Linked DNA regions of Homo sapiens. The protein of the gene in region 1 purifies or fractionates together with the protein of each later gene. This does not show direct contact. Each region holds a gene or a part of one and is shown in the gene's direction. Other genes may lie near its edges. The genes, in order: KLK5, AP3S1, LOXL2, POLE2, METTL13, PASK and FRAS1.

Region 1 (3,500 bases):
CAAGTGGTGGCATTTAAAACTATTTAGCCTTTCTGTAGGCAAGGTTAGTATCTTGTTTTTCCAGACCTCAAGGTGTTTTTTTGTTTGTTTTTTCATACCGGTGTGTGGTCTGGGTGTGGCCACTAAAAGCTACAAGCAAGAAATAATAACAACTACAACAATACTAATACCAATAGTATAAAAATAATAGCATCTGGCTAATTGCTGGACACTGTTTTAAGTGGTTTGCATGCCTCAGCTCATTAACTCATTTACCTGTTATTATTGGCCCTATTTTACAAACAAGGAGCCAAGGCTCAGAGCAGTTAACTAACAGCCTCTCAAAAGAAACTCTGCAGAGATATTAAATTTAAAAAATAATGAGAGAAATTAAACCACAAGAAAGTTGAAATTTAGAGGTACAGGCAGCTAAGCTTGTTTGCTTTGAAACAGTGTCTGCTACTGGGAAAAAGGCAAGTCTTGGCTTTCCTAATAATTGATACCAGGACTCTGTAATTCATATTTTGCATGCATGTAAGTAAGAAATGAAGCCGGGTGCAATGGCACATGCCAGTAATCCCAGCACTCTGGGAGACTGAAGTGGGAAGATCACTTGAGCTCAGGAGTTCAAGACCAGCCTGGGCAACTAAAAATTAAAAAAATAAAAATACTAATTGTTTTTATTTTAGTAGATTTTATTCATACCACTTACATCATTATTGTAGTATGTACATATTTATTTCTTTTCTTTTCTTTTCTTTTCTTTTTTGAGACGGAGTCTCGCTCTGTCACCCAGGCTGGAGTGCAATGGCACCATATCAGCTCACTGCAGCATGCGCCTCCTGGGTTCAAGCATTTCTTCCACCTCAGCCTCCCAAGTAGCTGGGATAACAGGCACCCACCACCATGCCTGGCTATTTTTTTTTTTCCGTAGAGATGGGGTTCCACCATGTTGGCCAGGCTGGTCTTGAACTCCTGACCTCCAGTGATCTGCCTGCCTCGGCCTCCCAAATTGCTGGTATTACAGGTGTGAGCCACCGTGCCCAGGTGGGAGATAGACATTTCTCTCTACCTCAAACAGAGGTCCACTCAAGCTACTTTTCATTTTCTTCATAAATATTAGCCGAGTGGCTATTTTGCACCAGGAATGGTTCCAGGTGCTGTGGATATGGCATCAGGCAAAACAGACCAAAAACTTCCTGCCGCGTGGACCTCATGTTCCCCAAGTGGAAGACAGGCAATAAAGAGATAGATAAATATGTAGTAAATTAAAAAAAAAAAAAATTAGCCGGGTGTGGTGGCTTGCACCTGTAGTTCCAGCTACTTGGGAGGCTGAGGTGGGAGAATTGCTTGAGCCCAAACGTTTGAGGCTGCGGTAAGCCATGACTGCACTGCTGCACTCCAGACAGCAGCCTGGGTGACAAAGCAAGACGTTTTTGTCAGAAAGAAAAAAAAAAGAGACGAAGGGAGGAAGGAGAGAGAAAGGAAGGAAGGAAGGAGAAAGAAAGGAAGGAAGGAGAAAGAAAGGAAGGAAGGAAGGAGAAAGAAAGGAAGAAAGAGAAAGAAAGAAAAAGAAAGAAAGAAAGAAGAAAGAAAAGAGAGAGGAAGGAAGGAAAGAAGGAAAAGAGGGAAAAAAATGACTGTTGAAGAGCAGTGAGTATTATTATAGGAGGGTAATTATAGGGAGGTATGGGGAATTGAAGACAGGAAACACAAATTAGTCCAAGCGAATGGATTTCTATTGGGAGTGATTCTGCCCCTAGAAGACACTGGCAATACCAGGAGACATTTTTGGTTGTCACAACTATATGGAGGGGCATTACTGGCAACTAATGGATAGATGCCAAGTGTGCTGTTCAACATGCTATGATGCACACGGCAGGCCTCCACAACAAACCATTATCCAGCTTCAGATGCCCACAGTGCCCAGATCGAGGAACCCTCATCCAGGGGCTGAGAACCGTATTTTTGCAGAAGGGAGGTATAAGGATGGGTTGGTGGAGAATGGGGAAGGAAGGTGTGTGTCCAGTAAGAGAAATAAGGCCTGCACAGGCTGGAGGGGAGAGTGAGAGAGAAAGGGAGGCGGAGAGATACACGATGAGGGAGACAGGCTGGAACAGAAAGTAGAGACGAAGATTCGAGATGTGGAGAGGAAGGGTCACAGACCCCCCCGAAATGATGTGTGGACAACAGGAATCTGGAAGAGGAAGATGGAGTGGAGAGTGACAAATGGGGTCTAAAGGTTGAACTTGGAGGCCAGGCATGGTGGCTCACGCCTGTAATCCCAACACTTTGGAGGCTGAGGTGGGCGAATCACTTGAGGCCAGGAGTTCGAGACCAGCCTGGCCAACATGGTGAAACCCCGTCTCTACAAAAAAAATACAAAAAATTAGCCGGGTGTGGTGATGGACACCTGTAGTCACAGCTACTTGGGAGGCTGAGGCAGGAGAATTGCTTGAACCCGGGAGATGGAGGCTGCAGTGAGCTGAGGTCAGGCCACTGCGCTCCAACCTGGGCAACAGAGTAAGACTCCATCTCAAAAAAAAAAAAGCTGGATTTGGAGTGAAATATTAATAACATTCTCCCTCTCTCTCCTTTTGCCTGTGTCTCCATCTCTGTCTTTTTCTGCATTTCTTCATCTCTGTACTTTCCATCTCTGTGTGTCTGTTCCCATCTGCTTCTCCATCTATGGGCATCTCTGGGTCTCTCATGTCTCCTTCTGCCCACTTTGCCACATCTCTGCCTCTCTCATGCCCCCCTTTCTCTCCTGCAGGGTGATTCTGGGGGGCCTGTGGTCTGCAATGGCTCCCTGCAGGGACTCGTGTCCTGGGGAGATTACCCTTGTGCCCGGCCCAACAGACCGGGTGTCTACACGAACCTCTGCAAGTTCACCAAGTGGATCCAGGAAACCATCCAGGCCAACTCCTGAGTCATCCCAGGACTCAGCACACCGGCATCCCCACCTGCTGCAGGGACAGCCCTGACACTCCTTTCAGACCCTCATTCCTTCCCAGAGATGTTGAGAATGTTCATCTCTCCAGCCCCTGACCCCATGTCTCCTGGACTCAGGGTCTGCTTCCCCCACATTGGGCTGACCGTGTCTCTCTAGTTGAACCCTGGGAACAATTTCCAAAACTGTCCAGGGCGGGGGTTGCGTCTCAATCTCCCTGGGGCACTTTCATCCTCAAGCTCAGGGCCCATCCCTTCTCTGCAGCTCTGACCCAAATTTAGTCCCAGAAATAAACTGAGAAGTGGAATCTTCCTGTGTCTCCTCCCTGTGCAGGGTGGCTGTGAACAAGTCATATCTCCGCCTCCAGGCTCATGTGTTTTGTCTATGAGGTCACTTGGGTTGTGAGAAACAGAGGTCCAGTCAGACTACTTTTCACCTTCTTCATAAATATTGGCCAGGTGGCTATTTTTTATTTTCATTTATTTATTATTATTATTTTTTTTTTTTTGCGATGGAGTCTCACTCTGTTAACCACACTGGAGTGCAGTGGCACAATCTCGGCTCACTGCAA
Region 2 (3,500 bases), on another chromosome or scaffold:
TACTTCTCTGACTTTATCATTTACTAATCTTTTCTTATCTACTGGCCTTTTTTCTCTTCCCTGAACATACATACTTTGTTCTTGATGAAATGTCCTTTTAGTACTTACTACCTTAGCCTGAAATGCTCTTCTCTAAATTTTTTCCAAGCCAACTCCTTATCATTAGATCTCAGCTTAAATGCCACTCTTGCTTAATATTCAGCCTGAAGTAGGGAACCCATCAATATATCATCATTGTATTTTGATTGTCAGTGTAACACTTGCCACTATCTGATGATGTTCTGATGTGTGTGTTTGTTGCTTCTTCCCCACTACCAGTGCTTGGCACATAGTAGTTACTCAGAGAATAGTTTAATGAATGAATGAACTGAAATTAAGCACTGGCTTCTTTTACTTGATGTTTCTGAAGAAAACAGCCACCTTAATTCACCTAGTCTCTGAATAAGTTCACTTAAATACTTTGCCATTGAATGTCACCTTTCATTTGACAAGTGGTTTTTAAACAAATTGTCAGTTTGCTTGAGCTAATGAAAATGATTCGCATTTTGTTTCCAATAACATTACAATTTTTTTGTCATTTAGATTAATTGGAGGATCTGACAACAAACTGATTTATAGACATTATGCAACGTTATATTTTGTCTTCTGTGTGGATTCTTCAGAAAGTGAACTTGGCATTTTAGATCTAATTCAAGTAAGTTAACACTTGCTTCTTACTATCTTAAATAACAGTTTGACATTTAAATTTTTAAAAACTTATATATTCTAAATTTTCTAAAATGATGTTAGTAAGAAATAAAGCATTTCATAATAGATATTGTGTTGGTAAAAGAGGTCAGAGGACATAGAAACAAGCAAACATTTGATCTGATTAAAACTATCATAACTAGTTTAATCATGACATTTTATCTTGCTCATGTAAGTTACAGCAAGGAGCTTAAGACTCGTGGGTTTCTTAACACATGTATCCAAAACTAACCCTAAACCCTACCTCTCCCTGTCTCCTGAAAATCTTTCATAATGTCCCTGGAACTCAAGGTCAGTCATCAGCAAATTTCTTTTTATCTTCAGCCTCTTCTGTTAATATTACTTTACATTTTGCTCTAAATTAAATCTTGCTTCCCTGATGATACTACGTGCAACCCTTTGAAGTAGTGGCCATTTTCTCTCCTGCTTCTTTCTGCCTTTGAGCCTGGAGGTGTAATCTTAGCTTCTCATTGCATTTTCCAGACCATTCTTTCTTCTCAAACACCTCCAAATTTTATCTTATGTTATCAGACTATACCACCTTCTATCCATTTAGTTATAGTCATCACTCATCTCCATCTCTCCTTCATTGGAGATTTTGTTAAGAATTGTGAAGGGTCTGAGATTTGCTCTACTTGCAAACTAAGAAGTTAACCTGCCATAATTTCATGGATGCTGGCAGAAGGCAGGAGATTTCTGGGCCAGAGACAAAGGACCTTATTACTAATAGCAAAAACATTAGCTAAAGTGACAGCATTTGCTTGCACGAATTCTCTAATTCCCAAAGGGTGATATGAAGAGGTCCAGATGATACCTGCACACACAGTGGATTAAATGACAGATGAGGAACGCCAAGTTTAGGGAACTGGAATCTTTTATAATGGATACTAAGCATGTCTGCCCTTGTTTGGAAGGAAGACTGTCTCTTCCAAGAGTGTAAGGAAACCTATCCTTTGCTGTGGAAGAAGACACTGTCTATTTTCCAGGGCTGTTTGATATACAAGCATGCTTAAAAAGATAGCCCAGAACAAAGACAGTCAATGCCTCTGCTCACAATACGTGTGGAAACACAAGATCCATCTAAAATTGTCTCCTAATAGATTTTGGTTCTTGGTTCCCTGGCATTCATTCCAGTACTGCTTGTTTTGTAATTCTTGGTGATTCCATTGTTCATATGTATAATTCTCCCAATATCCTGGTGTCTTCAAAATCTGGAACTCCTCTCTTCCAATAAATTTTGCCCTCCACTCCATCTCACTATGTACCCATTTCTAGATTTTATCTTTGTCTAAACTGTAACCCCTCCATAATCTCAATTTCACAGTTTTGAAGTCGTTAGACCTATTGCAACCCTCAGTTTTAAAAATCCATCATTTTTTTCACTCTGATTTTACTGATGTCTTACTTTCCTTATCCAGCTTAAATTTCATAATCATGGTAGTGATATAGCCTTGTGTACACTGAACTCCTTGCCCACACCCATACATCTGAACATACCTAGAGGAAAAAAAAAAGTAACCATATTTACCAGTCTCACTTTAAATTAATGATCCCTTAGCTCATTGAGTCCTTTATGCTACGCAAGAATCATTTTCTGTTTCCCCGGTCCATTTACTCTCCCATACCTCTAGATGACTACTCATACAGTCTCCTCTCTCCTAAAATATCTAGCACTTCTAGCACCTTGCTTCCCAGTGCACAGATAAAATTGGCTTTTGAAGTTAGCAAGAAGGTGGCATGGTTTGAGCTCTAGTTGGCGTTACAGAATAGACAAGAAATTAACCCAAGCAGACAACTTAGGTAACAAATTCTTAGCACTGTGGCTAAGGCTTTAAAAATAAAAACATTGTGGCCAGGTGTGGTAGTTCACACCTGTAATCCTAGCACTTTGGAAGGCTAAGCTGAGCAGATCACTTGAGCCCAGGAGTTCGAGACCAGCCTGGGCAACCCCATCTCTACAAAAATTAGACAGGCATGCTGTTCTGCACCTGTCGTCCCAATCACTTGGGAGGCTGAGGCGGGAGCCAGGGAGGATGGCTTGTAGTGAGCTGAGATTGTGCCACTCACTCCAGCCCAGGTAACAGAGTGAGACCCTGTCTCAAAAAAAATAGAAATAAAAACATTGTTAATAAAATAAAAAAGGAGATAAATGATAAATTGATCTATTTGTATGCCATATTACTCTTAAATCTGTAATTCTTAAACTGGGTTTTTGGGAGGAGCTGGGTATCAAAGTTACATGAAACCACAAGGTAATCATGGCACATATTCCTGGTATATGTTTCTTCTTTGTTTTGAAGATTGGCGGCAGTGAGGAAATGAACGTAAACATGTATATATTATGAGGTAGAATACAAATTTTTCATAATATTTAAAGCTCTAAGTGGAGACTTGAAAGAAATTTTGAGCTTGAGGTAAAGGTGCCCCAAGATCCCTTGGGTATATGTTCACTTTCCTCCTGGGGCCTACTTGAGAAACACTGCTGAGTTATGTTTTGCTTTCTCAAGGCTTTTCTAGTAAAGAAAAAGAAGCCAAATCTTACTTTTGATGACATTGAAGGGTTGATCAGGACTATATATTGCATTGCCTTGTAACTTTGTTTATTCTTACATTTCTTAGTTTATCCCACCTAGGGGAGTAGTTAATTCATTTTATCATTATGTCAAGAGAGCATTATATTTTTACAGAAAAAAAATTAATATAGAACCATGCTTTCTATTTCTCTGTTTCCCATGACTGAAGAGAGTGGTAGA
Region 3 (3,500 bases), on another chromosome or scaffold:
TGGTCACCCAACAGACATGGAACTGCCTCACTCCAAGGCAGATCATCCCTCCATGGGCAGCTCTGGACAGCTCTGACTACAGGAAAGTTAGCCAGTCCTTCCTCAAAGGTAGTGTGCCATGACCAGAAGAATATGATTAGCCTACTCCTCTGCATAGGGTTAAAATAAAATACCTTATGCCCCCACCTAAGCTTCCACCTGCTCATCCTGGTTTGGGGCCCTGCATGTTTCTCCACAAGACACACGTGTGCTCCTTTTAAAATCGTCTCCTCTTTTCTCTGAATTACGGGAGGACCAAGATACACGAGGTCTCTTGCTACATGATTTCACTCGGGAATTCTTAGAGGTAGGCTCCACCAGATACGATGACCAGGACCTTGAGGATTTTAAAACTCATTTAGCATTGCAGCCCTCAAAGCTGACGGGAAAATTATAATTCATCTAGCAAATGTTCCTGTAGTGTTTTGGGGTGCCATTCATTTAATGGAGGGTGGGTGTGTTGAACATCCTGCCCTCACCCCTTCAGACCCGCTCCTTCTCCACCGGCCCCCATGTTCCAGGAGGCTGTCCCACACGGGCTCCCTCAATGGGCTCAGCTCCCTTGCCAGTGGCTTCGAGTTGAAGGGGGCTGGGTTTGCCTAATAGGAGGCACCAGAATGATTCAAAGACGGGAGGAAAGGGAGTCAGGTATTTATTCTCCCTCCCATGTCCCCGCCGTTGCCATGGGTTGGCTCTGAGACCCTCCAGTGAGGGCCACAGCTCCTAAGAGACAGCTCCCTCTGCCAGTCTCCAGTTCTCACCCCCGCAGGCTCCCTTCAAGCCTAGGGTGGTCACAGCCCCCTCTGAGTCGCCAGCCCTAGGGTGTGACACCGGCCTTTGTTAGTTCTGCAGAACTCTGCCGGCATGTCCGTAGTCTTAAAAAACTCTCCTTAAATTAAGTTGGAGTGTGTTCTGTTCCCTGCCAGGAACTCTACTGGAAAAAGCATTCTAGAGAGATGACAAGGCAGTAGGTAAAGGAGGTGGGACCTCCCAGCCCTGCATGGTGGAAATGTAGGAGTGGGGCTGGATTGGCGTCGAGAATGGACGAGCTTTCCATATTAAGCCAAGGGGTATGAAATCGCTGGTTCTCTATGTAGGTCTCCGTAGCCCCACGTTCCCATCCTAACGCATCTCTCCTCTCTTCCAGAAAGCTCCTGCTGCTTCTGTACCCCGCCTGTCCCTCCCAGCTGCGCAGGGCCCCTTCGTGGGATCATCAGCCCGAAGACAGGGATGGAGAGGCCTCTGTGCTCCCACCTCTGCAGCTGCCTGGCTATGCTGGCCCTCCTGTCCCCCCTGAGCCTGGCACAGTATGACAGCTGGCCCCATTACCCCGAGTACTTCCAGCAACCGGCTCCTGAGTATCACCAGCCCCAGGCCCCCGCCAACGTGGCCAAGATTCAGCTGCGCCTGGCTGGGCAGAAGAGGAAGCACAGCGAGGGCCGGGTGGAGGTGTACTATGATGGCCAGTGGGGCACCGTGTGCGATGACGACTTCTCCATCCACGCTGCCCACGTCGTCTGCCGGGAGCTGGGCTACGTGGAGGCCAAGTCCTGGACTGCCAGCTCCTCCTACGGCAAGGGAGAAGGTAAACGCTCTGTGCTTTGGATCTGAGTGCTGTCACCTGGCAAGGCCCGGAGTGGCCTTCCCTGAGGTCAGCCTGGGAGAGGAGGCTGCACGCACTGCGAAGTGTAAATTCTTGGTGATGCCCATCCAGGGACTGGCATCCTTCTGTGCCCACTCAGGCTGCACCCTGCAGGAAGGCGGGGTCGGGGGGCTTGAGGAGGGGCACAGTAAGTGACCAACCATACTGATTTGCCCAAGACTTTCCTGGCTTTAGCACAGAAAGTCTCACATCCTGGGAAAACCTCAGGAAAACCAGGACAGTTGGTGACCCCAGGTAGGGGGTGAAATCGGCCTGTGCTCCTCTCTCCGCCCCATATGCCCTGCCTGGGGGCTGCGTCAGCCCAGAGGAAGTTGCGCTTTACTCCAAATCGTTCCCTGTTAGGAAAGCCTCTTGCTCTTCCTCACAATGGCTCCCACATGCTGGAGCTCCCTGACGCCCCCCACCTTCCTGGCATGTGGAGTTCATCGTTTTCACACTAACCTGCTATTGTGGGCTTGGTCACAATAGGCACACAGATGCTTTGGGTTTTTCACCGTTGGTTAGCCTATTCTTTCCTCCCTTGTGAGGTTCAAATTTATTAGTTTATTTTTAAAAATTGTTTTAAGAGCTGGCCAGGCGCAGTGGCTCATACCTGTAATCCCAGCACTTTGGGAGACGGAGGCGGGATGATCACTTGAGGTCAGGAGTTCGAGACCAGCCTGGCCAACATGGGGAAACCCCATCTCTACTAAAAATACAAAAATTAGCCGGGCATGGTGGCGAGTGTCTGTAGTCCCAGCTACTCAGGAGGCTAAGGCACAAAAATCGCTTGAACCCGGGAGGCGGAGGCTGCAGTGAGCCGTGATCGCGCCACTGCACTCCAGCCTGGGTGACAGAGCGAGACTCCATCTCAAAAAAACAAAAAACAAAACAAAAACCCAAAAAATTGCTTTAACAGCTTTGAGGCAGGACAAAGTTTGAAGCCCTGAACCTAGAGCTCAGTCTGTACTGACCTCTGACACCACACTTTGTAGGAAGACGCATGTCCTCTCCAGCCTCATTTTCCCCATCTGGAAGTTGGGCTAAGAACCCCTGAAACCCTGACAGTGTATGTTCCCAAATAGGAAAGAGATAAGGGTGGAGGGAATTGTTTCTTTTTAAACATTTTTCCAGGAGCTAAGAGTTTCCTATCTCTGGGTCAGCCAGGCAAAGGAAGCTCCCACACCCTCCCGCCCGGCTGAGCTGCAGCCCAGACCTCAGCACAAGTCTGGCTACTGGACTAAAGCAGAGCTGCCTATACTCCTGTCCTGGACTAAAGGGCTAATGCCATGCTGACTGCGTAAGAATCGCCCAAGGGAGCTTAAAAGTACAGAATAGCGCAGACCTCAACCCACCATAATCTAGTTTAAAAGGTCTGGGCTGGAGCCCAGGACTCTGTCTCTTTTGGAAGTCTGCAAAGTGACAGGTTTGGGAGTCATTGAAATTGATAACTGTTATCCTCCCTTCCAACTTTTCTGTTATTCTAGAAATTATAGGAGAAAGGAAGTCCCATCTCATACACATCTCACCTCCATGCAATTGAAAATTTCCTTTTGGGGTAACTGGATCAGGAGACAGCACAGAGTCAAATGTTCTCTGCAGCTTGCTCTGGGCGATGAGAGCCACAGCAGTGAAGTTAGCAAATGCTGGGCTTTAGAACCCACTTCCTGTCTTCTTTAAACAAACGTCCGATACTTCCACATCTCTGTTTATCCGGCTGGCTGAGCGATCCAGGGGTAACCTCAGATTCATGTTTTCCATTCCAGGCTTTCCAACGCTCATTATTTTATAACAAATGCTTTCCAGTGACTGGGTATTT
Region 4 (3,500 bases), on another chromosome or scaffold:
ATTATTTCCTGTAATTTCAGGCATCCTAACATGTGATTTCTCAGATAACTGTATTTTGAAAAAGTTCCCACCACTGGTTAAGAACAAGTGCCCAGGCAGGGCACGGTGGCTCATGCCTGTAATCCCAGGACTTTGGGAGGCCGAGGTGTGTGGATCACGAGCTCAGGAGTTTGAGACCAGCCTGACCAACATGGTGAAACCCCGTCTTTATTAAAAATACAAAAATTACCCGGGTGTGGTGGCGTGTGCCTGTAATCCCAGCTACTCAGGAGAAGGAGGCTAAGGCAGGAGAATTGCTTGAACCTGAGAGGTACAGGTTGAGTGAGCAGAGATGGCGCCACTGCACTCCAGCCTGGGCAACAGAGTGAGACTCTATCTCAAAAAAAAAAAAAAAAAAAAAAAAAAAAAAAAACCAACAAAAAAACAACTGACCAAATCAAGTAACTCCCCTCCAGGTTATTGTCAGAGAATATAATCTTGAACACAGCCCAGTTGTCTTTTTCTTTTTGGAATTAACATATTTATTTAAAATAAAAGTGAATATAAAATGAATAATTTTCAAAACATGCTTATAAATATAAAATTAAAAAGGAGGCCAGACGCTGTGGCTCTTTTCCAGCCCACTTGTCTACGCTGGATATCCTGAGGGCACTTGATTTTGTGACCCCAGGACTAAGTCAACTCTGAGGGCTGTCAGCCTGGAGCATACAGTCTTATCCACTGTTAGAATGTCTTTTACTGAAATAACATTTGGCATAAAACTTGTAGACATAAAACAGTCTGCAGCCATTCGTGGTGGCTCACACCTGTAATCCAGCACTTTGGGAGGCCAAGGCAGGCAGATGACTTAAGTCAGGAGTTTAAGACCAGCCTGGGCAACATGGCAAGGCCTGTTCTCTACAAAAAAATACAAAAAATTAGCTGGGTGTGGTGGCCCACACCTGTAGTCCCAGGTACTGGGGAGACTGAGGTGGGAAGATCACTTGAGCTCACTTGAGCTCGGGAGTCAGAGGTTGCAGTGAACTGTGATTGGTCCACACTGCACTCCAGCCTGGGTGACAGCTGTCAAGTACCCTGTCTCATGGTACTTGCAGTTGATGCTCACTCTTTGTCCACTGAAATAGTTGCTTCCTTTATCTGCTGTGGCCTCAGATGCTGAAAGCCTTGACATAATTTCCAAACTATAATTTTGTATTGGTAACTGGGGAATCTTTTCAATGCTAGATCAAACAAACTGATGTAAGTTTATGTTTTAGGAAAACAGAAAAGTTTCAAGATATATTGAAATAATCTGGCCTTCTTGCCACTTAGTTTCTCCTAAGAAGCCTTCTGTTAGAATATTTGTGAAATCATATTGTGGAATTAGTCACAGAAATGTAGTCAAAGTTGATAAAATTAACCCTGTTTAAACATGACTTTCAAGTAGTTTTATTTAAAAACACAATATTGGTGATGTTTTGGAGGAAATACACATTCTCACATGTAGTTGGTCAGAATGAAAAATGGCAGAAACCTTTATGGAGGGCAATTTGACAAGATTTATTAATGCCTACACCAACAATTCCACTTTTAGGAATTTATTCTATAGGTATACTTAAGCCTATGCATACAAGTAGGTACATCATGTATAGGTACAGCTGGCTTTTTACTGCAGTGTTTTTTTTTTTTTTTGTGAGACGGAGTTTTGCTCTGTTGCCCAGGCTAGAGTGCAGCGGCACAGTCTCGGCTCACTGCAACCTCCATCTCTTGGGTTCAAGCGATTCTCCTGCCTCAGCCTCCCAAGTAGCTGGGATCACAGGCACATGCCACCACGCCTGGCTGATTTTTTGTATTTTTAGTAGAGATGGAGTTTCACCATGTTGGCCAGGCTGGTCTCAAACTCCTGACCTCAGGTGATCCACCGGTCTTGGCCTCCCAAAGTGGCTGGGATTACAGGCATGAGCCACTGCGCCCAGCCTTTTTACTGCAGTTTTTATACCAAGAAATTTTAAAAATGTATATATATCTAAATATTTGTACTTATTCAGAACTTTCTGATTTACTTAAATTTCTAAGCCTCAAAGAAGTAAATATAATGTATTTACTACTAATGGAAAAAAGGTGTAGAAAGTATGCATAATATCCTATCACTTCTGTATGTTTTTAAAGCATAAGCCCACATATACATGTGCTTATATATGATTAGAATACTTTTTTTTTTTTTGGAGACGGAGTTTTGCTCTTGTTGCCCAGGCTGGAGTGCAATGGCGCAATCTCAGCTCACTGCAACCTCCGCCTTCTGGGTTCAAGAGATTCTCCTGCCTCAACCTCCCGAGTAGCTGGGATTACAGGCATGCGTCACCATACCTGGCTAATTTTTTATTTTTAGTACAGATGGGGTTTCTCCAAGTTGGTCAGGCTGGTCTCGAACTCCTGACCTCAGGTGATCCACCCGCCTCTGCCTCCCAAAGTGCTGGGATTATAGGCGTGAGCCACCGCGCCCGGCTACTTTTTTTAAAAATTAGTCTACCTTTATAAAGGACATATAGTTGTTGGCCGGGCGCGGTGGCTCATGCCTCTAATCCTAGCACTTTTTGGGAGGCTGAGGCGGGTGGATCACCTGAGGTCAGGAGTTCAAGACCAGTCTGTCCAACATGGTGAAACCTCGTCTCTACTAAAAATACAAAAATTAGCCAGGCATGGTGGCAAGTGCCTATAATCTCAGCTACTCAGGAGGCTGAGGCAGGAGAATCACTCGAACCCAGGAGGCAGAGGTTGCGGTGAACCGAGATTACGCCATTGCACTCCAGCCTGGGCAACAGAGTGAGACTCCCTCTCGAAAAAAAAAAAAAAAAAAAAAGACATACATTTGCTTTTTGGGAGCAGAAAAGGGGGCATGAGAATGACTTATTTTTTAGAGTCTCCTTTTGAATTTGAAACAGTATGTATGTATTGACCTGTTTTTAAAAATCAATTAACTATACCTATTTAAAAAAATTAACTACAACTATTAGTAAGTATACAACTTAGGTTTCCAAATATTTAATTTTTTTTTCTATTTTCAGCAAACTTCAAGGCTTTTGAGATTCTTAAAGATCATCTGAAGAAAATTCATCAGTTTTCTGCTTAACTCTATATCTTATGTGATTCTGATATTACAATAAAATTATGGTAAACTTTAGGATGTTCTGCTTAAATTTGTATTTTGTGAAATTTTGATACTAAGTGATAAATATGATGGTATACTTGAGAAAGTTTTCTAGGAAAAATATTTTCTGCATAGTCTTTTAAGAAAAATATATGGGGGCCAGGCGCAGTGGCTCACGCCTGTAATCCTAGTGCTTTGGGAGGCCAAGGCGGGTGGATCACCTGAGGTCAGGAGTTCGAGACCAGCCTAGCCAAGGTAGCAAAACCCTATCTCTGCTAAAAAAAAAAATACAAAAATTAGCTGGGCATGGTGGCGGGCGCCTGTAATCCCAGCTTCTCGGGAGGCTGAGGCAGGGAGAATCACTTGAACCTGG
Region 5 (3,278 bases), on another chromosome or scaffold:
TGCCATGTTGCCCAGGCTGGTCTCGAACTCCTGAGCTCAAGTAATCTGCCCACCTCGGCCTCCCAAAGTGCTGGGATTACAGGTGTGAGCCACTGCCCCTGGCCACTTTGAGATCTTTAAGAGACAATAATAATAACACACTAGTTCATCTTCTGGATCTAGTCATCATGAATCCAGGATTCAGTTATCAGATGTCAAATTCACTCCTAGATTTCTGAAATGAGACAGGGAGACCTCTAAATCTTGTATCCCCTGAATGGAGACAGTGAGCTGACTTTCCCTTTTGCCTTCCCTGAGGCTGGTACAGAATTTTCCAGTGAACAGGTGGCAATGTGATGCTCTATTCTTTTCTTACAGAGATCCCACTGGCATTGTTGGTGGTAGGCCTGGGCGGGGGCAGCCTCCCCCTCTTTGTCCACGATCATTTTCCAAAGTCCTGCATTGATGCTGTGGAGATCGATCCCTCCATGTTGGAAGTGGCCACCCAGTGGTTTGGCTTCTCCCAGAGTGACCGAATGAAGGTCCACATTGCAGATGGCCTGGACTATATCGCCAGCTTGGCAGGAGGAGGAGAAGGTACTGCTCTTGGAGCATTTGAAGGGGTGTTGAGGGATGATTGATGCGACATTGTCAGGCCCGCAAGGGCCTCTACAGTTTATCTCTAAGAGAGTGGCATGAGTATCGTTCCAGTCTTCAGCCTGTTCATTTGTTGATATACTTATTCACTAGAGTACCAGCTATATGCTTAGCACTGTGTTAGGTGTGAATGTAAAGCAATAAGTAAAACAGGCCATTCCTGCCCTTATGGTGCTAACAGACCAGTGGGCTTTTTTCTGACCTGTAACCTTGTCATTTCCTCACCATCTTAAGAAACCTGAAGTCTAACTGGGCAAAGAAACAGAGAAGAAAAGGTGGAATGTGTGTTGGGAGGTATTTTTGTAAATATTTCAACTGGAGGTAAAGCCAGAAATAGAGCAAAACAGTATTCATGTAAGATCAGTGGTATACAACCTCAGGGTCTGACATTTGGTAATGTATGGAGACAATTTTTCATTGTCACAAATCGGGGTGGGGGATGTTGCTACTGACATCTAAACGGTAGAGGTCTAGGATGCTAGTAAACATCTTACAATGTTCAGGACGGGCACTGATGACAGAATTATCTGGCCCAGAATTTCCACAGTGCTCAGGTGGAGAAACCTTGATGCAGATGGTACTCTGTGGGAATTTTGATAGGCCTTCTGCAACTAGAATTAAGGTTCCATTTGCTCTAGTAATTTGCATCCCAGATTTAGGACAAAAACCATAAGCATAATAATTTTCTGTAAAATACTAGGGACAGTAACTCTGCTATTATACAGATAGGCTGCTGGTGAGTTTAGTACTTTCTGGAGCTCGAGTCCTTCGGGGAGAAGGCAGTTAGGTTGGTTCAGTTCTGTTCAGGACTGCTGGTCTGCTCATTCCATAACAGATACTCTGGTCTCACTAGATTAGAATATTTTCCAGTAAGGGTGTGGCAAACTAGGAGGCCTGGGACAAGTATTGAACAGATGCTATCTTAATTTTAATTGCAAACTGAATTGAATTGTAACAGTTTCGTAGGTTCCCTCTCTGAGGCTAGGGTTAGTTTAGGTGCCCAAGCCCAGATAGCTAATACGGTGAAGTATTTACAACAGTGCCATGCACATGGTAAGTACTTAATCCATGATGTTACTGCTGTTGTTATCTATAGATCAGTTTTCAATGGCTCTGCCCATCTTCTGTAACACCAAAATGTTTCAGATTACTGGAGGGCTCAAGGCTGCAAATGCAGGCTATTGTTTTCCTTGGACTTTGATGAGCCAACATGTTCTCTTTGTAAGAAACCAAAATCAGATCTGTGCTATGAACAATGATAAGCATGCAGCAGTCCTAATTAAATACTTATTAATTATTGAATAATTATGACCACAGTCTCAAAATTTTCTAAAAACCTGTCAGTGGCATTGCAGACCTACCCCTTATAAAAACAATTTAACATTATAGTAAGGAGCAGATCCATTTCTTCATCAGTTCTTTCTCACCCATTTAGCAAAATCATTTCTTTCTTGAGTCAGCTCTTGTTCATGGAACTGCAAAGATAACACTAACTGAAATTTCAGAACATTTTCTCCTATGAGGCAAAATGTGCTGTTTTCAGAGTTAAAAGTTACCATTTGCTGGGTCAGCCCTTAAAGGCTTAGTCAGCTGCTTTGTCTAGATCAGTGGTTCTCAACTCTGACTGTATTTAGAATTACCTGGAAAGCTCAAGAAAAATACCAGAGGCTTCCCATCTCTCCTCCCATCTGCCCCCTACTACCCCAGGATATTTTATTCTGTTGGTTGGCGTGTAGTACACATTAGAAGCTTCCCAAGGTGATTGTAATGTTCTGCCACAGTCAAAAGCCACTGGTGTTGATAGACTCTTAACCGAGAAATATTCATGCAAAGGGGACCCCAGTAATGTTTTTGCCTTTGGAAGGTGCTTTTAAATGTGGAAGAAGGTTCCATCTTTACTATGGGACACTCTGAACCCTGATGACAAAGACTCCCCTGGGCCATGACATCAGTGCCCTTACAGGCAAACCACATCCTCTGTGTCATCCTTCTAACTTAGTCACCATGCCCACCACTGGTAAAGAGGAGGTATAGTGTTGGAATGTAAATGGTATTATTTTATCCAGCAAAGACAAGGACTTGTTTCCTTCTTTTTCCCAGCACGGCCTTGCTACGATGTCATAATGTTTGATGTTGACAGTAAGGACCCAACACTGGGAATGAGTTGTCCGCCCCCAGCATTTGTGGAGCAATCTTTTCTACAGAAGGTTAAAAGCATCTTGACTCCTGAAGGTATGGAGAACAAAAGGTGGGAGAGGGAGGAGAGAAGGGACCATTAACAAAAATTATCTTTTTAATGAAAAATGCACAGAAGTGCGAGCTCGATCAATTTTTCCAAATTTAATACACCCATTTACTAGCACTAGACACAGAAAATTTCCAGCTTGCCAGAAAGTCGTATCTCTTATCCCCTTTCAGTAACTTGTCCTCGCAAGAGTAATCACTGTCTTAACATTTGTCCACCCAGCTTAATTTTGCCTGTTCTTGTTCTTTATATAAATGGAATCATATGGAATGTTGGAATGTTCCCTTTTTTTTTTTTGAGACAGGGTTTTGCTTTGTTTCCCAGGCTGGAGTGCAGTGGCCTGATCATGGCTCACTGTAGCCTCAAACTCCTGGTCTCAAGGAATCCTCCCACCTCA
Region 6 (3,500 bases), on another chromosome or scaffold:
ATTGCTCATTGCATTGCAAGCTCCGCCTCCCGGGTTCACACCATTCTCCTGCCTCAGCCTCCCGAGTAGCTGGGGACTACAGGCGCCCGCCACCACGCCCGGTTACTTTTTTGTATTTTTTTTAGTTTCACCATGTTGGCCAGGATGGTCTCGATTTCCTGACTTTGTTATCCACCCGCCTTGGCCTCCCAAAGTGCTGGGATTAATTTTATCATTTTCAAAGTCATATGAAGCTGTTCTCTTTGCACATTTTAAAATATTCTATTTAGAGTAAAGAAAGTTTATATTAGAGAATTAGGAACATTTGGAAAAGTAGAAATAAAAACTTGTTCTATTCTCATAGTCGTATTGTACATAGCACGTGTGTGTGTATTTTTAACCCATTTTCTTCTTCGGAATCTTTTTTTTTTTTTTTTTTTTGAGATGGAGTCTCACTCAGCTGCCCAGGCTAGAGTGCAGTGGCGTGATCTTGGTTCACTGTAACTTCTGCCCCCTGGTTCAAGTGATTCTCCTGCCTCAGCCTCCTGAGTAGCTGAGACTACAGGCACCTGCCACCACGCCCGGCTAATTTTTGTATTTTTACTAGAGGCGGGGTTTCACTATGTTGGCCAGACTGGTCTCGATCCCTTGACCTCATGGTCCACCCGCCTTGGCCTCCCAAAGTCCTGGGATTACAGGTGTGAGCCACCATACCTGACCCAGAATCTTTTCTTATGCACAGCATGCAGTAAAGGTGCCCAAACTGTAGGTGCCCAGGTGGCCCAGGACCCTTTCTTGGCTGCCTGCAGACCCTGGGTCCCTTCCTGCACTGTGCCCCCTACACCCTGCTGCCCTGGGTCAGGGCAGAGGTTAGACTGCCTGCCGTTGAGCCTGACGCATGCATTTCCTTCTGTCTGCCTTCTGCTTATTGCTGTGTCTGTGATATTTATCCACATAGTTGTGTTTTCTAGTCTTGAAATTATTTAAAAAATATGTAATAGATACATATAAAGTATGTATGTATGTTTAAAAATATGTAATGCATGGGCCAGGCGCGGTGGATCACGCCTATAATCCCAGCACTTTGGGAGGCTGAAGTGGGTGGATCATGAGGTCGGCAGATGGAGACCATCCTGGCTAACACGGTGCAACCCCGTCTCTACTAAAAATACAAAAAATTAGCCAGGCATGGTGGCGGGCGCCTGTAGTCCCAGCTACTCGGGAGGCTGAGGCAGGAGAATGGTGTGAACCTGGGAGGCGGAGCTTGCAGTGAGCCTAGATCGCGCCACTGCACTCCAGCCTGGGCGACAGAGTGAGACTCCGTCTCAAAAAAAAAAAAAAAATGTAATACATGCATATGTGTTTTTTTAATTATAGAAGAATAATGGTAAAAGCAATAGTTCCCCTGGCCGTCTTCCAATCCCCCTCCTCCAATCCTACTCTTTCCCCCAGGGGACCGCAGTCAGCAGTTAGAGCCTTCCAGGCCTTCTTTCTTGTGCATTTAACTATAGTTGTATATTATACTTCTATGTGTGCATGTGCATATGTGTGCTCACATGTAACTGCTTCTGTTCCCTGAGCACGGCTGGGATTATACCATACACAGTGTCCTAAATGTGTGTGTATGTGTACGCACACACATGTCCTGCAGATCTTCCTCTACAGGCCTCCTCGGAACCGAAGCCTCCTGGATGGCACCCTAGCTCATGGGCCACTTTCCCACTGGCCGATGTGCCGGTGCTTTCTCTTGTTTGCTTAGCCTCCCTGATTTTCCCTTTGCCACTGTGGGTCCGCGTTGAGTGGCGTGAGAGGGTAGCTGTTGGCTCTATTTGCTCTACTTCCACTGCGAGTGGAACAGAGCAGGCGCTCAACACGTGAGTTTTCAATATTACTATGAATAATATTGCTGTGCGCACCTCTCCAGAGGTGCCACCAAGCTGAAGTGGGGCGGCCGTGGTTGAGGGCCCAAGTCTGACCCGTGGGTGCTCAACAGCACTAGCGGCCGGGCCCCCTTGCCAGTGCTCCCGTTGTCTGGGACATCTTGGTGGACAGAGGCCACGTGGCCCGTTGCTATCCTCAGGACCTTGGACACAACTCATCTTCCAGGACTTGGTGGTACCAAGGGAGTTGCCCAAGATCAGCCAATTCCTAGTCTTTCTATTGCATTGGACGTTTCTGGATGTCACAGTTCTGAGAGTTTGATTAGCATCCACTGCACAGCTAGTGCAGTTATGACTATAGAGATTTATCCATTCATTCCCCGCTCAGTCATTCACTCACTCGTTCGCTTATTCAACAAATAAGCATTACAGAAGACTTGGGGTGTGTCCCTAAGAATTGTAGTCTGGTCAGGACAATAAGCTGAAACAGTAAGACAGAACAGGGTTAGGAAGCATGAAGGAAGGAGGTGAGCTGTACGGAGTGCTTTTGTGTTTTAGGGACTACGTTGGGTGCTTCCTCGTAAGTTGTCTCCTTTAGTTCTCCTGGTAATCCTGGGAGTGTAGTCTGATTTTTAGCAAATGGATGCTGAAGCTGAGTGAATTGTTACACTGGGCATCAGGTCCTCGAAGAGACCCCAGGTGATGTGCTCAGACAGCAGGTGGGGGTCTCGGGTCTCCACGGGGGTCAGGTCCTGGTGCTTCCCCACTGGAGGACCTACGGTCCCTGGGGCTGCCCTGGGTTGAGGTCCCAGCAGCTCAAGGCCTGTGTGCAGTCGGCAGATCACATCCTTCATGCCCTGACTGCATGCTGGCCAGAACTGAGTGGCGTGGCGATGCCTGGCTGCCAGGGCAGCTGGAGGATGTCCTCATGTTTCCTGAGTTGCTGTCATGCTGAAAGTCAGAGATCCACAGTTTCACAATCTCTTAGCCAAAATTATGAAATCCAAAAAGCCCCCAACACTGAAATATTTTTCTTAGAATTGATGCTAAAAGCATTGGACGGTCAAATTGGCCCTAAGCACGTGAGAAGCTGTTTGTGGTTTTCCCTTGACCTCTGCAGTTTGAGTGTTCAGAGGCCTTGCTGCAGACACAGGGCAGTGGATGCCCGTGAAGCCCTCTCCCCAGCCTGCTGGGGTCTCCCTAGCAAGTGGTCATATGACTTTTCTGAAATCCCCAAACACATCTGGCCCAAGGGTTTTGATGGAAGGGCCGTGGACCCAGGTGACTGTGGAGAGAACGGGTACTGAGGCTGCAGCAGCCCGCTAAGGCCCCAAGAGCATGGGTGAAGATGCAGTGCTGCCCAGGGGCCTCAGCTTTGTGTCTGGACTGTGCCCCAGAAGTTGCCCAGACTCTTTGGCAAGGGGCTTTGTGAGACCCTCGTGGTGTGCATTCGCCTCCTGTCTTACCTGATCCTGCAGGAGGATGTGCAGTTTCCTAGCATTTGCATGGGGTTTGTCTCAAGCATGGGATGGATGGAGAGCGGGAGAGGGAGGTACAGGGGAGAGAGAGATGGGAGACATGGAGGGAGAGAGGCGGGAGACATGGAGGGAGAGAGGCAGGCAGACGCAGACCCTCAGCCTC
Region 7 (3,500 bases), on another chromosome or scaffold:
TTATCAGCCTAGAGAATAATTTTTAAAAATAGAAAAGAGACATTCACATGTATACTTCTTTTGATGGGATGTACCTTGTGACACCTTTGCTGACCAGCTTATGGCAGAATTTGTCGTTTTCTTCTCAGTGCACAGAGAGAACAATTGTGGTTGGTATGGGTTTGGTCTTCCTCACTTAGCTGTGTGCTTATTGAGGGGTTAGGATGGCTCCTATTAATTCTGATATCTTCAGTTCAGCTCCTAGTATACACTAAGTGCTCAAAAAATTGGTCAGATGAACAGTATTGCCAAATTATATTATTTTGAATTAAGCTTAACTGGTGGACTGGCCTCTGATTAGCTCACTAACCTTGAATGAACCATCTAACCTCTTTGCGCTATAGTTCTGTCATTTACTAAATGAGGTACATTACGTGATAGCTCTAAGATACTTTGGCTAATCATCAAACATAGAAGAAAAAGAGATCAGTATTTGCTGCATTATTAGTGGTCAATTGCAATTTTCTGGTTCTAAATTTTATTATTTTTATTATTTTTTTTTTGAGGCACAGTCTTGCTCTATCACCCAGGCTAGAGTGCAGTGGTGCAATCTCAGCTCATTGCTGCCTCTGCCCCCTGGCCTCAAGCGATTCTCATGTCTCACCCTCCTGAGTAGCTGGGATTACAGATGTGCGCCACCATGCCCAGCCAATTTTCACATTTTTAGTAGAGACAGAGTTTCACCATGTTGGCCAGGCTGGTCTTGAACTGCTGACCTCAAGTGAACTGCCTGCCTTGGCCTTTTAAAGTGCTAGGATTACAGGTGTGAGCCACTGTGCCTGGCCTCTAAATTTTATCAAAAGAAATATCAAAAGAAAAATAAATTTTTACAAGCAAATTATTGGCAGTGTTATTTTATATGGCCTTATATTGCTAAACTGGTAAAGTATTAATGCTATGACTTGAGAACTTAATAAAATCAAGAAGTCACAAAGAAGCTTCTAACATGGCTGCTTTCTGAATCACAGAAACTCTACCATGGCTTTTTCTGGAGAAATATCTTGAGTTCTGTTGACATATGGAAGTCCTGTGAAGTTACAGTAGATAAGACAGTTGCCTTGGGATAGGGAAACATCATTGAATTGGAGGTTAAGAGAATTGAGCTTTAGTCTGTGTCCCATCACTCTCCATGTGATTTTAGCCATTCCCACAAACGCTGAATCCCGGGTTTTTCCTATAAATGCTATTTAACAGGTTACATTGAAGAGGCTCATTTGATAGACAATATGTTTTATTTATGGGTGAGTTAGGGTAGTTGCACTCTGGGCTGCAGAGTTGTTTCACTGAGAGACTCTATGCTTGAAACTCAATAACTCAATGTTGGGAAGAGAAGAACTTGGCTGGAAAAAAGTAACCTAATTCTTTTATTCTGCAAGCCTTTATTGAGAGGTTCTGTGTCAGGTTATGTCCAGTAGGTGGGTACAGACATCAAAACCAAAGCCAAAAAAACCTCCTGCGCTCAAGGAGTTTGCATATCTAGAAATCATTAATGTCAGTTGAATAGCAGTAGGGATATGGGAACATTTGGTCCTTGGTGGGTTTCTCAGTATGGAAACGTTAGATGATGGTTGTAACTTTGCATCCTTTGGCTTTTGTAATTACCTGGCAATGGAAATAAAGAGGTGTTGTTGTGGACTCTTATTTTCATCAATTATATTTCCATTGCCCTCTGAAGATTGGATTCTGGGCATTACTCTCCTTATATAGTGTACATCCTTTAGTAAGGACCCAGCCATCCGTATTCACTGTTATGGACTTGGGTGGCAATGTCACCCAACTGTACTCACACAAGTAGTCATAAAATATTCTTTAACACATGGCTCAGAGTAGGGGAGGGGACTACCACATGTCAAAGTTGGAGCCTCATGCCAAATCTTACCGTAGTTCCAAAACAGTTGGCCCACTTTCATTTTAACTACTCTATTAATTGATCTAAATCCTAGTTGACAATAATCAGGACATGAGCTGTCCTGTCAGTTCAGAAAATGATTCTATTTTAAGTATTCCACAGTGCACACAGCCATATGCTGAATTATAACACAACATAAAGCCTGAACATTTAAATGCCAACTTGTGGCTGCTTGTTCCTAATGAGTCATGTTCTTGTGGTACCATGCTCTCCAAATCTTTTTGTATCTTAATGGTTGTATCTGCCACTATTTCTTTGAACTAATGGGTCTGACATTTTGTGGTGCTTGGATTTAACTTCTCTAATTTACTCAGTTTACCAACGGTTTCAGAATATATGCAAATTATATCTCAAAATTTCTCCAAAAATACTAGATTTTATACAGTCATCTCATAAAGGCGTATATTATAATGTGCAAAAGGGATTAAAAACAGACATTTACTTGTTTAAATTTTATGCAGTAACGTTTTTTCTGTGTGACCTGCAAGAAATGAGCCAGCCACACAGTAAAAGAGCAGCTCAGGTCTCAGGATCTGGGCTTCCTTCTTGACACTATAAAATTACTTCACCCTGCAAAACTTTATGCTCTTTCTCACAGGTTGTGAGGTGTTAGAACTTAAATTACCTGGCATCTCAGCTGCATTCTGTGCCTTGAAATTGGCATTGTTCATAGTTAGAGAACTACTCCTGTTGTCTCCGGTTTTTCCTCAGTTTTCCTTTGAGGGAGGCTCATTTCTTCTTCTAGATCAGCACTCTCTCACAGAATTCACCTTGAGCTGGAATTTTCTTTAAAGTTCCCTGCCATAAATATAAACGTCAAATAGACCTGCAATCATTCTTGTACTCCTGAAGAAAAAAAAATAATGAGTCGAGAGATGAATTTTGTTTTCCATATTATGTGAACTGACGGATTAGTGAAAAGACCTCCACTCTGGCTTTCAACCAGAAGCTACACCCAGTACCCATGTCAACAAACCCCTCAACTTCATCTGCTGGTGGGTGTGTGAGAGAAATATGCTTCCTTTGGATGCTGCATCTGGTATTGGGTGATGATAAATGTTTGATAGAACTGGGCATCACACTGGAATGCTTTTTTTCTCAAGAGAGTAGAAATGAGGTTTTGGAAGCTGTGTTAATGGAGGCTCATTCATGCAGCTGCCTTCCAGGTAGAACTGTTCTGTTTTAGGAAAGCTCTCAGAGGGCAAAGCTTATTTCTTTTGGAATTGTACAATACAAAGCAACCCAAATTGAATTAATTCCTTTTCCTAATGATATAATTTTTCAGCAGCTCTACACCATTTTGGCTTGAGTCTCCAGCAGATGCATGGCTTGCCCAGGTATAGATGTGGTGCCACACTCAGTGCTACTTTATTTTTTTCATACTGCAGTGAGTTTATCATGGCTATCTAAACTTCCAAAAATAGGTTTTGATATGGGTACTCAGATACTTCTTAAGGTGCTTGATTTCCTTTGGAGCTTTGAAAAGAAATTGACTTTGGAAGGTAATGCTGTGGAGAGCAATAAAATTATTTGAGGATAGTCTTATTTTAAA

What was found.
Region 2: the proteins of KLK5 (region 1) and AP3S1 purify together in Homo sapiens (affinity purification with mass spectrometry; 3 studies listed by BioGRID and IntAct, with this or other methods). This does not show direct contact.
Region 3: the proteins of KLK5 (region 1) and LOXL2 purify together in Homo sapiens (affinity purification with mass spectrometry; 4 studies listed by BioGRID and IntAct, with this or other methods). This does not show direct contact.
Region 4: the proteins of KLK5 (region 1) and POLE2 purify together in Homo sapiens (affinity purification with mass spectrometry; 3 studies listed by BioGRID and IntAct, with this or other methods). This does not show direct contact.
Region 5: the proteins of KLK5 (region 1) and METTL13 purify together in Homo sapiens (affinity purification with mass spectrometry; 3 studies listed by BioGRID and IntAct, with this or other methods). This does not show direct contact.
Region 6: the proteins of KLK5 (region 1) and PASK purify together in Homo sapiens (affinity purification with mass spectrometry; 3 studies listed by BioGRID and IntAct, with this or other methods). This does not show direct contact.
Region 7: the proteins of KLK5 (region 1) and FRAS1 purify together in Homo sapiens (affinity purification with mass spectrometry; 4 studies listed by BioGRID and IntAct, with this or other methods). This does not show direct contact.

What each region holds. Positions count from the first base shown.
Region 1 is NC_000019.10:50,943,039-50,946,538, reverse strand, and holds the end of KLK5 (kallikrein-5 preproprotein), read left to right. Parts: intron 1-2,752; coding exon 2,753-2,908; 3' UTR 2,909-3,236; downstream 3,237-3,500. UniProt on the Homo sapiens protein: May be involved in desquamation.
Region 2 is NC_000005.10:115,869,435-115,872,934, forward strand, and holds part of AP3S1 (AP-3 complex subunit sigma-1), read left to right. Parts: intron 1-582; coding exon 583-694; intron 695-3,500. UniProt on the Homo sapiens protein: Part of the AP-3 complex, an adaptor-related complex which is not clathrin-associated. The complex is associated with the Golgi region as well as more peripheral structures.
Region 3 is NC_000008.11:23,366,121-23,369,620, reverse strand, and holds part of LOXL2 (lysyl oxidase homolog 2 precursor), read left to right. Parts: intron 1-1,186; 5' UTR 1,187-1,269; coding exon 1,270-1,624; intron 1,625-3,495; exon of another isoform or gene 3,496-3,500. UniProt on the Homo sapiens protein: Mediates the post-translational oxidative deamination of lysine residues on target proteins leading to the formation of deaminated lysine (allysine).
Region 4 is NC_000014.9:49,643,215-49,646,714, reverse strand, and holds the end of POLE2 (DNA polymerase epsilon subunit 2), read left to right. Parts: exon of another isoform or gene 1-145; intron 146-3,044; coding exon 3,045-3,063; 3' UTR 3,064-3,160; downstream 3,161-3,500. UniProt on the Homo sapiens protein: Accessory component of the DNA polymerase epsilon complex. Participates in DNA repair and in chromosomal DNA replication.
Region 5 is NC_000001.11:171,791,660-171,794,937, forward strand, and holds part of METTL13 (eEF1A lysine and N-terminal methyltransferase), read left to right. Parts: intron 1-357; coding exon 358-576; intron 577-2,736; coding exon 2,737-2,868; intron 2,869-3,278. UniProt on the Homo sapiens protein: Dual methyltransferase that catalyzes methylation of elongation factor 1-alpha (EEF1A1 and EEF1A2) at two different positions, and is therefore involved in the regulation of mRNA translation.
Region 6 is NC_000002.12:241,128,973-241,132,472, reverse strand, and holds part of PASK (PAS domain-containing serine/threonine-protein kinase), read left to right. Parts: intron 1-3,500. UniProt on the Homo sapiens protein: Serine/threonine-protein kinase involved in energy homeostasis and protein translation. Phosphorylates EEF1A1, GYS1, PDX1 and RPS6.
Region 7 is NC_000004.12:78,060,323-78,063,822, forward strand, and holds part of FRAS1 (extracellular matrix organizing protein FRAS1 isoform 1 precursor), read left to right. Parts: intron 1-3,500. UniProt on the Homo sapiens protein: Involved in extracellular matrix organization. Required for the regulation of epidermal-basement membrane adhesion responsible for proper organogenesis during embryonic development. Involved in brain organization and function.